2 separate regions of the Homo sapiens genome follow, and region 1 is linked to region 2. Evidence: fine-mapped expression QTL. Tissue or cell type: tibial nerve. Region 2 holds a variant in brackets; the other region holds the start of a gene. All regions are shown on one strand. Distances are from middle to middle.

What was found. PIP is the estimated chance that this variant, and not a neighbour inherited with it, causes the effect.
Region 1: AP5M1 starts here. The variant in region 2 is fine-mapped to the expression of AP5M1 in tibial nerve (GTEx, PIP above 0.99). The same link has a PIP of 0.9 or more in aorta and transverse colon.

Annotation. Positions count from the first base shown.
Region 1 is chr14:57,266,876-57,271,022 of GRCh38, forward strand. It overlaps AP5M1 (adaptor related protein complex 5 subunit mu 1), which reads left to right and starts at 2,096. Exons shown (of 8, transcript NM_018229.4): 1 at 2,096-2,513. The coding sequence starts at 2,440. It overlaps EXOC5 (exocyst complex component 5), which reads right to left and starts at 2,030. Exons shown (of 18, transcript NM_006544.4): 1 at 1,747-2,030. The coding sequence starts at 1,773. RefSeq lists a silencer at 1,461-1,520 and enhancers at 1,830-2,413, 2,061-2,260.
Region 2 is chr14:57,184,963-57,189,315 of GRCh38, forward strand. No RefSeq gene overlaps it. Among named protein-coding and RNA genes, the nearest start is that of EXOC5, 82 kb to the right of the region's middle. The variant G/A (reference allele first, on the strand shown) is at 1,882.

The DNA.
Region 1 (4,147 bases), 82 kb after region 2:
ATAAGTTACTGAAATCATGTGGTCAAACATTTAAATAAAAATATACATAAGATGGTCCAAGGTACAACTGGAACTGTCAAGCAGGATTAACTCAAAGGATAATGTCTTATGAACTGTATGACAACATATATAACAGTTTTCAGTTAAGAGCTGGCTTGCCGGCAAATACCTTAATTAAAGATCTCATACAACTTCATCGTTTTCTCCCTTTTTAAGATGTGAAAAATAAAACAAGGAACCACAGCACTACTTAGTACCTAGGGACACAGTAAAAGTTCCTAGCAGGAAAAATGTCTCCCCGTTCTTGTGTCAATAAACAGATGGCACAATTTTGGAATTACAGAAATTAATGTAGCATATCTCCCAACACTTAAGTGAGAAAATACAATATCTCTGAAGTCTTTCTTGTAATTACAATCCTTCATTCACAAATTACTGTCTTATTACAACTTATTATAACAATAACATATATTACTCCTCTCAAAAAAAGCATTATCTATCCAAAAGCTGACTGATATGCAAAATATAGTAACAATAACAAATGTAAATTTCCATTTGTTATTAAAACTGTGGCATTCAAATTGTAAGCCACAAAAACTGCTGAATCTTACGCAGAAAAAGGATACCATTTTCACTTATGGAGAAGTTCCCTATTGTGGATTACAGTCTTCTCAATTATTACACTTTTGTTACTCAATGTGAAACACAAGCACACACACAAAAAAGGGGTCTTTCTTTCCTTTTTCTTATCCGTTTTCATTTCTTTCACACAAGGAGATGCTTTATACGTGTCATTGTTTTGTAGCCTAATTAGAGTTTTCCTATTCTATTATCTCAAACTTTTATCACAGCTTCTTACAACGGACTTCACGAAATTAAATTTTAAGGTTTAGATACTGTAAACGCTCGAGGAAAGACATTAGTATTCTCACTATTACATATTAAGGATTCTCTAGCTTGCAGTTAGGTGATTTTATAATACATGTAAATGCATATAATACACTTAAGGTGCATTATATACATGAAACGAAGTGTTCGTTTTATTTTATAAACTTTTTTTATTTTATAATACACGTAAATGCCTCGAGTGTATTATTATGTATTACATGAAATAAAGTGTTCACTTGAATTTTGCCTCCCTTCAGTCTATCTCTCTTCAGTCGAAAGAGATAAGTAGGCCTTTATTGTCCAAAAAAAAAAAAATTGTCCCAGCCTTTTCAAATGTCAGGTTAAACTGGCAGTCCTATGAATGCCACCTGCAACCTTACTAATGGAATAATTACTCAAAACGAGAAGCCCCCAAGAGTCCCGATCTCAAGTGGCTTCCTCCTATTATTCCCGCGAGGACCCCAGCGACAAGACTCGCCCAACCTGAGGCTCCTGGCTCTCTTTCCTCGTCCTGAGTCAGCCCTTCCCACTACTCATCCGGAGTAGACATCTTCCAACACCCGAACCTTCCAGACTTTCCCTCTTGCCCCCACAAACAAAAGCAACCCTCCTCCCTTGGGACACCCGGCTTCCCCTCTCTGCCGACCGGCCGCCCAGCCCACCTCGGCCCCAAGCACCCCTCCCCCATTTCACGCTCCGCCCGCGCTGACACGGAGCTGCCACCCCAACCCTTCTGTTTCGCACCTCTCTCCCGAGGGCTCCTCCTGGGCAGCCAGCAAACGCCCGCTCCTCGGCCCGCCCACCCAGCTGCCTGCAAACCCCGGGCCTGCCACTCCCTGTAGAGCCGCCGGGGCCCACCTCGAAGAGCTCGGCCGTGGTAGCCATCCCGGCCGGCTGAGAGGCTCGCCCCCCACTGGATGCCGTCTCCGCTTCACATGCTGCGCCTCAGAGGCGCGGCGCACAGGTCTCCGCTCGGCTCGCCAGCTCCGGCTCCGGGCCGCTGCGGGCTCCCCAGCTCCCCACAGATCCCAGGAGGGGCGGGAGAGCGGCCATGAAGCGAAGCCGCAAACGCTTGTCAGCTGCCTCCCGGCGCCGCCCGCGCTGCTCCCATTGTCACCGCCTCATACGCCGGAAGTGGAACTGCGCGCGCCAGGGAGGTTGTCGGGAGGGGCCGGCGAATAAAACGAGCGGCGAAAGAACCGAAAAAAGGCTCGACGCTACCGTGTATGAGGAACTTTGATCCTTGCGGGCCACCATTCCGGAAGTAGAATTTAGAGGAAGAAAATACCGGAGTTGCAGGGTATAGGTAAATTTCTCAAGGTTATAGGTTGGGGTTCTTAGAACTTTTTGTGGTGTGTGTTGGCCTAGAGCGACTCAGAAGCGTTAGTGACTTCACCTAAAAAAGCTAACCTCTCTGCTGAGCGCGACCGGTATGCGGCGCAGGATGAGCCTCAGGGCTTCTGTTAAGAGTCTGTCTGAGAAAGCCGGTCTGCGCTGTTCCTCGGTGGCGACCTTAATTATGAGATGAGCTAATGCTTTACTGACTTAACCATGGCGCAGCGGGCAGTGTGGCTCATAAGCCACGAACCGGGAACTCCACTTTGTGGCACCGTGAGATTCTCCAGGTAAATGCAAATCTGAATCCTCAGGGATGATGGATCAGAAGATCGATGAAGTAGCATAGTTTTGTGGTGCTTCGTGGCCCAGGTTTGCCACGAATAGCTGCGTGACCTTGGGCTAGCCAGTTAACAGACCTCTGTTTCGTCTGTTAAATGGAGATTTTAATAGTCCTACCTTACAGTGTTGTGAGAATTGAGTTGATGACTGGTACATATTATTTACGGTATATGTTTTCTATTAGTATTGTGTTTTAAAATGACCTCCGTCTGCTTAGAATTAAAATGGAGATGACTAAGGGAACGGTAGAAAATTTACTGAGCACTAAACATTTTCAGATTTTTCAACATGCATTGACAAAATCGTTCCAGAACATTTTAACTTATTCTACTGAAAAATCCATGCTAAGTTATATCAGACTTTTATTTTTTTGTTTTTATTTTTTTGAGACGGAGTCTCGCTCTGTTCCCCAGGCTAGAGTGCAGTGGTGCGATCTCCGCTCACTGCAAGCTCCGCCTCCCGGGTTCATGCCGTTCTCCTGCCTCAGCCTCCCGAGTAGCTGGGACTACAGGCACCCGCCACCACGCCCGGCTAATTTTTTGTATTTTTGGTAGAGAGGGGGTTTCACCGTGTTAGCCAGGATAGTCTTGATCTCCTGACCTCGTGATCCGCCCGCCTTGGCTCTCAAAGTGCTGGGATTACAGGCAGGAGCCACCGCGCCCCGCCCAGGCTTTTATTTTTATCTTGTTAATATGTGTCAATGGTAGAAATCATCAGTTTACAGTTCCTAATTGTTGAAGAAAATAGAAACACAAAAAAATGTATTCACTATTTCATATATTGTGTTAAGTTGATCTGGTCCCACTATTAGAATTTGCCCTGTGTAATCAAAATAGCTCTGTTAAGGGAATTGTACAGTAACTCATTGTAAAATGTTGGTGGCAATCGAGTGGGTCTATTTCACCTTTTATTCTCTGGCCATTGATAGTTCTTTTTTGTCACAATTCGTTCTTCCCTGAAGAAAGCTTATAGTGAAGTAGTACCATAGTAGAATTGAGATTGAGGCAGAAAAAAAAGATTTTAATTTTAAATGAAAATTGGTTGGCAATGGGGATATGAAAAATTCCTTCTTTGCAACCTTAACAGTTTTTGTTCCTGAGGGCATCAGAGTTGGAGTTTACCATTTCCCCCCAGGATTTCTGGCTGACACTAACCCCAACATTTGTTGTTGGACCTCAAATACAGGAGATTAATAATATTCTTTAGTACGTGGTTTTACCAGGCGCATCAGTCCGTACAAAGTATCTCTCATTTTACTTATATTCCCTTTGGTTACCTATTTCTAACTGCCGTTCCCTTCCCACTGACAGATAACTCTTAACATCTTCGATGTTACTCTTTTTCATTGTATGCATTTTTCAAATTACATAATTAAGTGTGCTTTAGACTTCACTTCCTAATGTTACATTTGTCACATTTCTCAACACTATTTTAAAGAAACATCCATGATACTTTGTGTTCATCTAAGGCAGCATGTCCAATAGAATTCTCTATGATGATGGAAAGGAGAAATGTTCTTAATCTGTACTGGCTAATACTGTAGCCACTAGCCACAAGTACCTATTGAGCTTTTGAGCTGCAG
Region 2 (4,353 bases):
TCAGTTTTACTGAGATCTTTGACTGTCAAATGGACTACTTCTCTTGGCCAGCCTAACACCTTAGCTTACAAAGTCAGGAGCTCTCTTTGTGAGAATAAGGATGGAGCAAAGGTACATATCAAAAAAGTGCCTCCACAAAATCTTCCAGAGGTCCCATCTAGAACTTCTAGGAAACCAGAGAATCCTACATTTTAGCTGTACTCACTGCACTCCCTTCTTCTTGCCTTTGAAACAGAGGTCTGCTTACTGAGAGTTAGGCTTCGAGAGTGGCAGAAAGAGCAATCCAAGAGGATACCTTCGTTGAAAGGAAATTGCCAAACAGAGTCAGTTATTCCATGTCTGATGCAGTCTCTTCAAACAGACCAGTGGTTCTTAAACTCTTCTGCACATTAGAATCACCTGGGAGCTTTCAAGAGTCCTGATACCTGGGCCACACCCCAAATCAATTGGATCAGAATCACCAGGGATGGGAGCCCGTGGCATCAATATCTTAGGGATGCTAAAAATACCACAGAAATGTGTTGCCCATGAACTCAGATTATGGTTTTTGCGGATTCGTTTTTAAACTACCACAGGTGATTCCAATAAAAAGCCAAATTTGTGAAACCACTGAATAGGTCTGTGCAAATGATTTGCATAGTCACAGTCAGATTCCATTCTCCCCCAGACAAGGCTGGAAATAAATCTTTACTGTCTTTTTCTATCTGCCATCCTAATTAGGGGGTTTCAAGGTAAGGAAGGTTTGTATTTATATTTATATGCCAGACACAGAAGAGGCCTGTATGTACTTTGTCTCCTTAGTTCTGGACACAGTCTTCTCATCCCGATTCATAGGACTGAGCTACTTTAAAGTACATGTGTCAACCACAACCCTCCAGTTCTCCTTAATCAGAAACTCTGAGATTGGATGCTGGGTATCTGAAGATTTTTTAAATTCCCCAAATGAGCTGATTCAAAACTAGGGCTAAGAATCTCTGAGCCAAGTAGATCACTGGCATTTGAGACATTTTGTGGCACTTGTCATAATATCATTCTTTATTCAAGGCCAGATTATAGGGTGGTTCAATCAGACAAATACCTGTGGCACTTATATATTAGAAATGCTCAAACAAACAAACAAACCAAAACAAAACAAAAACAAAAACCATGGAAATATATTGTCAGTGAACTCAGTTCTTTGTCTATGCATCCTAACACAAAGGACAAAATATAACATGGTTCCATTTCTACTAAAGTAGATCACCTTTCAGAAGAGATTAAAATGGAGAAGGGAAAAGAAAAGAAAACAGGCCGGGCGCGGTGGCTCACGCCTGTAATCCCAGCACTTTGGGAGGCCGAGGCGGGTGGATCACGAGGTCAGGAGACTGAGACCATCCTGGCTAACACGGTGAAACCCCGTCTCTACTAAAAATATCAAAAAATTAGCCGGGCGTGGTGGCGGGCGCCTGTAGTCCCAGCTACTCGGGAGGCTGAGGCAGGAGAATGGTGTGAACCCGGGAGGCGGAGCTTGCAGTGAGACGAGATCGCACCACTGCGCTCTAGCCTGGGCGACAGAGCAAGACTGCGTCTCAAAAAATAAAAATAAATAAATAAAAACAAAACAAAACAAAGCAAGACAAAACATCCTTGCCAGTATTGATCACTCCTCACTAAACAAATGTTGAACCATGATTTTCAACACACTTGGTGCTTGCATATCTCAATCCAGCCCTAATACCATGTCTTATTTTCAATGATGGTATTTGGATTGGTCATTCTGAGGGAGACCGTATGATAAAATAACAAAGCCAATAGCATTGCCATTTATTGAGCACTTGCTGTGCACCTGGTGGTAGGTGCTTACTGTAACTTCTTACTTACCATAGCTTCTTTCATAGAGGG[G/A]AAGCATTCATCCACTCATTCATTCAAGTATTGACTGCCTCCTATAGAAAAAGGCAGTAGATTATTTAATATTGCCAAGTACATAGGCTTTGGAATGAGACAGCATGGGTTTGATGCCTGCGCTGTGAGCTATTGGTTGTTACCTCTTCTGTAAAATATGGATAGCAGTAAGATTACCATAAATGAGTGACTCATTAAAGCACTGAATGCAATGTCTGATAACTATTCAGTAAAAGTAATAACATCAGAGATGGTCATTGCTCCTATGTGTACTATGTGCTAGACACATGCTGGGTGGTGGGTACCCTTATCTCATGAGCAAATTCAACCATCCGTTTGTTTATTCATCTATTTTAGTAAGTCATTCAGTCAACAAACCATTTTTTAATGCTGTGCTAGACTGTGAGAGCTCACTAGACTACAGGTAAGGAGCAGACAGACAGTAAACAAATCATGGAAACTAGAGGTGATGAGAGCTGCGTGGACGGGTGTGTGTGTGTGTGTGTGTGTGTGTGTGTGTGTCTGTGTGTGTGTAGTGCCCTGGCAGTGGAGAGGAAGGGGCCAGGACCTTGGGGAGGAGGCAGTAGCCAAAAGCTTCATGGAGACACTTGAGCAGTTTCTGGAAGGAATTGCTGCAGTGCGAGACCTGAGGGTGGGAAGTAGGTAGGAGAAGAGCATTCCAAGCAGAGGAAAAACCATGCAACAGTGTAGGTTTCTAGGATGATAGCCATCGCTGGCTGGAGAGAAAGGGCCTTGACTTTTCTCTGGATTTGGCAGTCTAAGGGGTTAGGATTTGATTTTTGAGCTGCAGATTTAGATCCAACTACTATACTCCTCTATATCCAATCTTCATTAAGATTTAATGAATTACCTATGTAGTCCTTATGAATTAATTGAGCAAAGCTGTAGGCAAGTAGTGTTTTCACTGTAGCAATCACTCAGTCATTTACTGGCAAGAAACTATGAGTACAAAGGCAAAAACAAAATTTGGTTTGAAGAACTATTTTGCAATGAATATATCAATAAAATTTTCCTACTATCTATCAGTTGGATTCATTAGCTTTTAAATATCAAATGCATGATTCTACAGCAAAACGGGCTTTTGAAATGTTAACAGAAAGAGGTATTATCAACATGCACTTATTAGGTTAGAATATATTCTAAACACAAAGGATCCCATCACTGGGGTTTTCATAGAAAGCTCTGCTGACGCAGCTTACAAAATACAGACCAAACCTGTAGCAGGTTGTGTCACTCACCCGACTCCAGAGGAACCCACTTTGAATGCTTCTACACACTCCTAGCAGCCAGAATGTCTCCTGGGAAGTACATTTTAGCCCTTATATCTAAATCCTTGCAACAAAATATAAGAAAAAAAAATAGAAGACGATGCCCAATAGTGACTGTTGGGAATGAAGGTCATGTTTATTTTCTTTTCATACTTTTCTGTACTTTCCAAATTTTCTGTAATGAATGTATTTAACTTCTTAAACATTCTCCAAAAACTACATAATTTAAAACATCATGAGAATACAGGAAAGACACTTGGGCTTCACATGTAGTCTATTTCGCTTTGTCGAATGGAACTGTGACAAAGACATTGACCGCAGTGCTTAAGTGCCTCAAAAAAAATTACTCCTGTTTCTGCTGTAAAATTTGTTAACTTTCACTCCTGTATATTTTCCTTTCTTAATGACATCTTGTTTTGGAGTTTATGATTTAACTAATTTTATTTTAATGTGTGATTTTAAATCAAATTATTGTCACAGCTGATAAAACAATTGTAATATAATGGCTTAACATTGATCTATTCCTTAGAAAAGCTTTGCAAGAAACCTAATAGGAGCAAGAGACTTGGAGGTAATTCATTAAAATTTCTCCAAAGAACTTATACCGAAGCACATGAAGTCAATAATGACAACATTTTAATCATTTATAAATACCAATAGCTAATATCATAATTTGATAATCAAATCAGGATTAATATAATCTTACAGACTGCTTCTTAAGAAATTAAATTATACAGAAAAAAGTCATCTCCTGGTCATACTCTTACACAGCAATAAATATTTTAATTGTAAATGTGCCTTTTAGAACCTTTAAATTTCAAAAAGATGAGGAGGAGGACAGATCCTGTGTACTTACTAATCTGTAAATAGAGTACCAGGCCAAGAATCAATTCTGAAATGCGGCATCAATTGCACAGGCTTCCACTTAGTTTTAGTTGAATAAAAGCCCTACTAGATACGCAAATAACATCAAACTTGCAGGATTAAAGAGAGGCCCCTCATACTCTAAATCATGATTGTCAATCATCACCCAGGATTAAGGGATATATTTTTAAAACCTAAAAGCAAGCGCCTCCTTTTAACTTCTGCCTACTGCGCATTTTGGATTATCGCCCAGAAATAGTATTACTTGAAACAAGACTGCCTCCCTCCTACCATCTATGAGAAGTGCATTGTTACCATC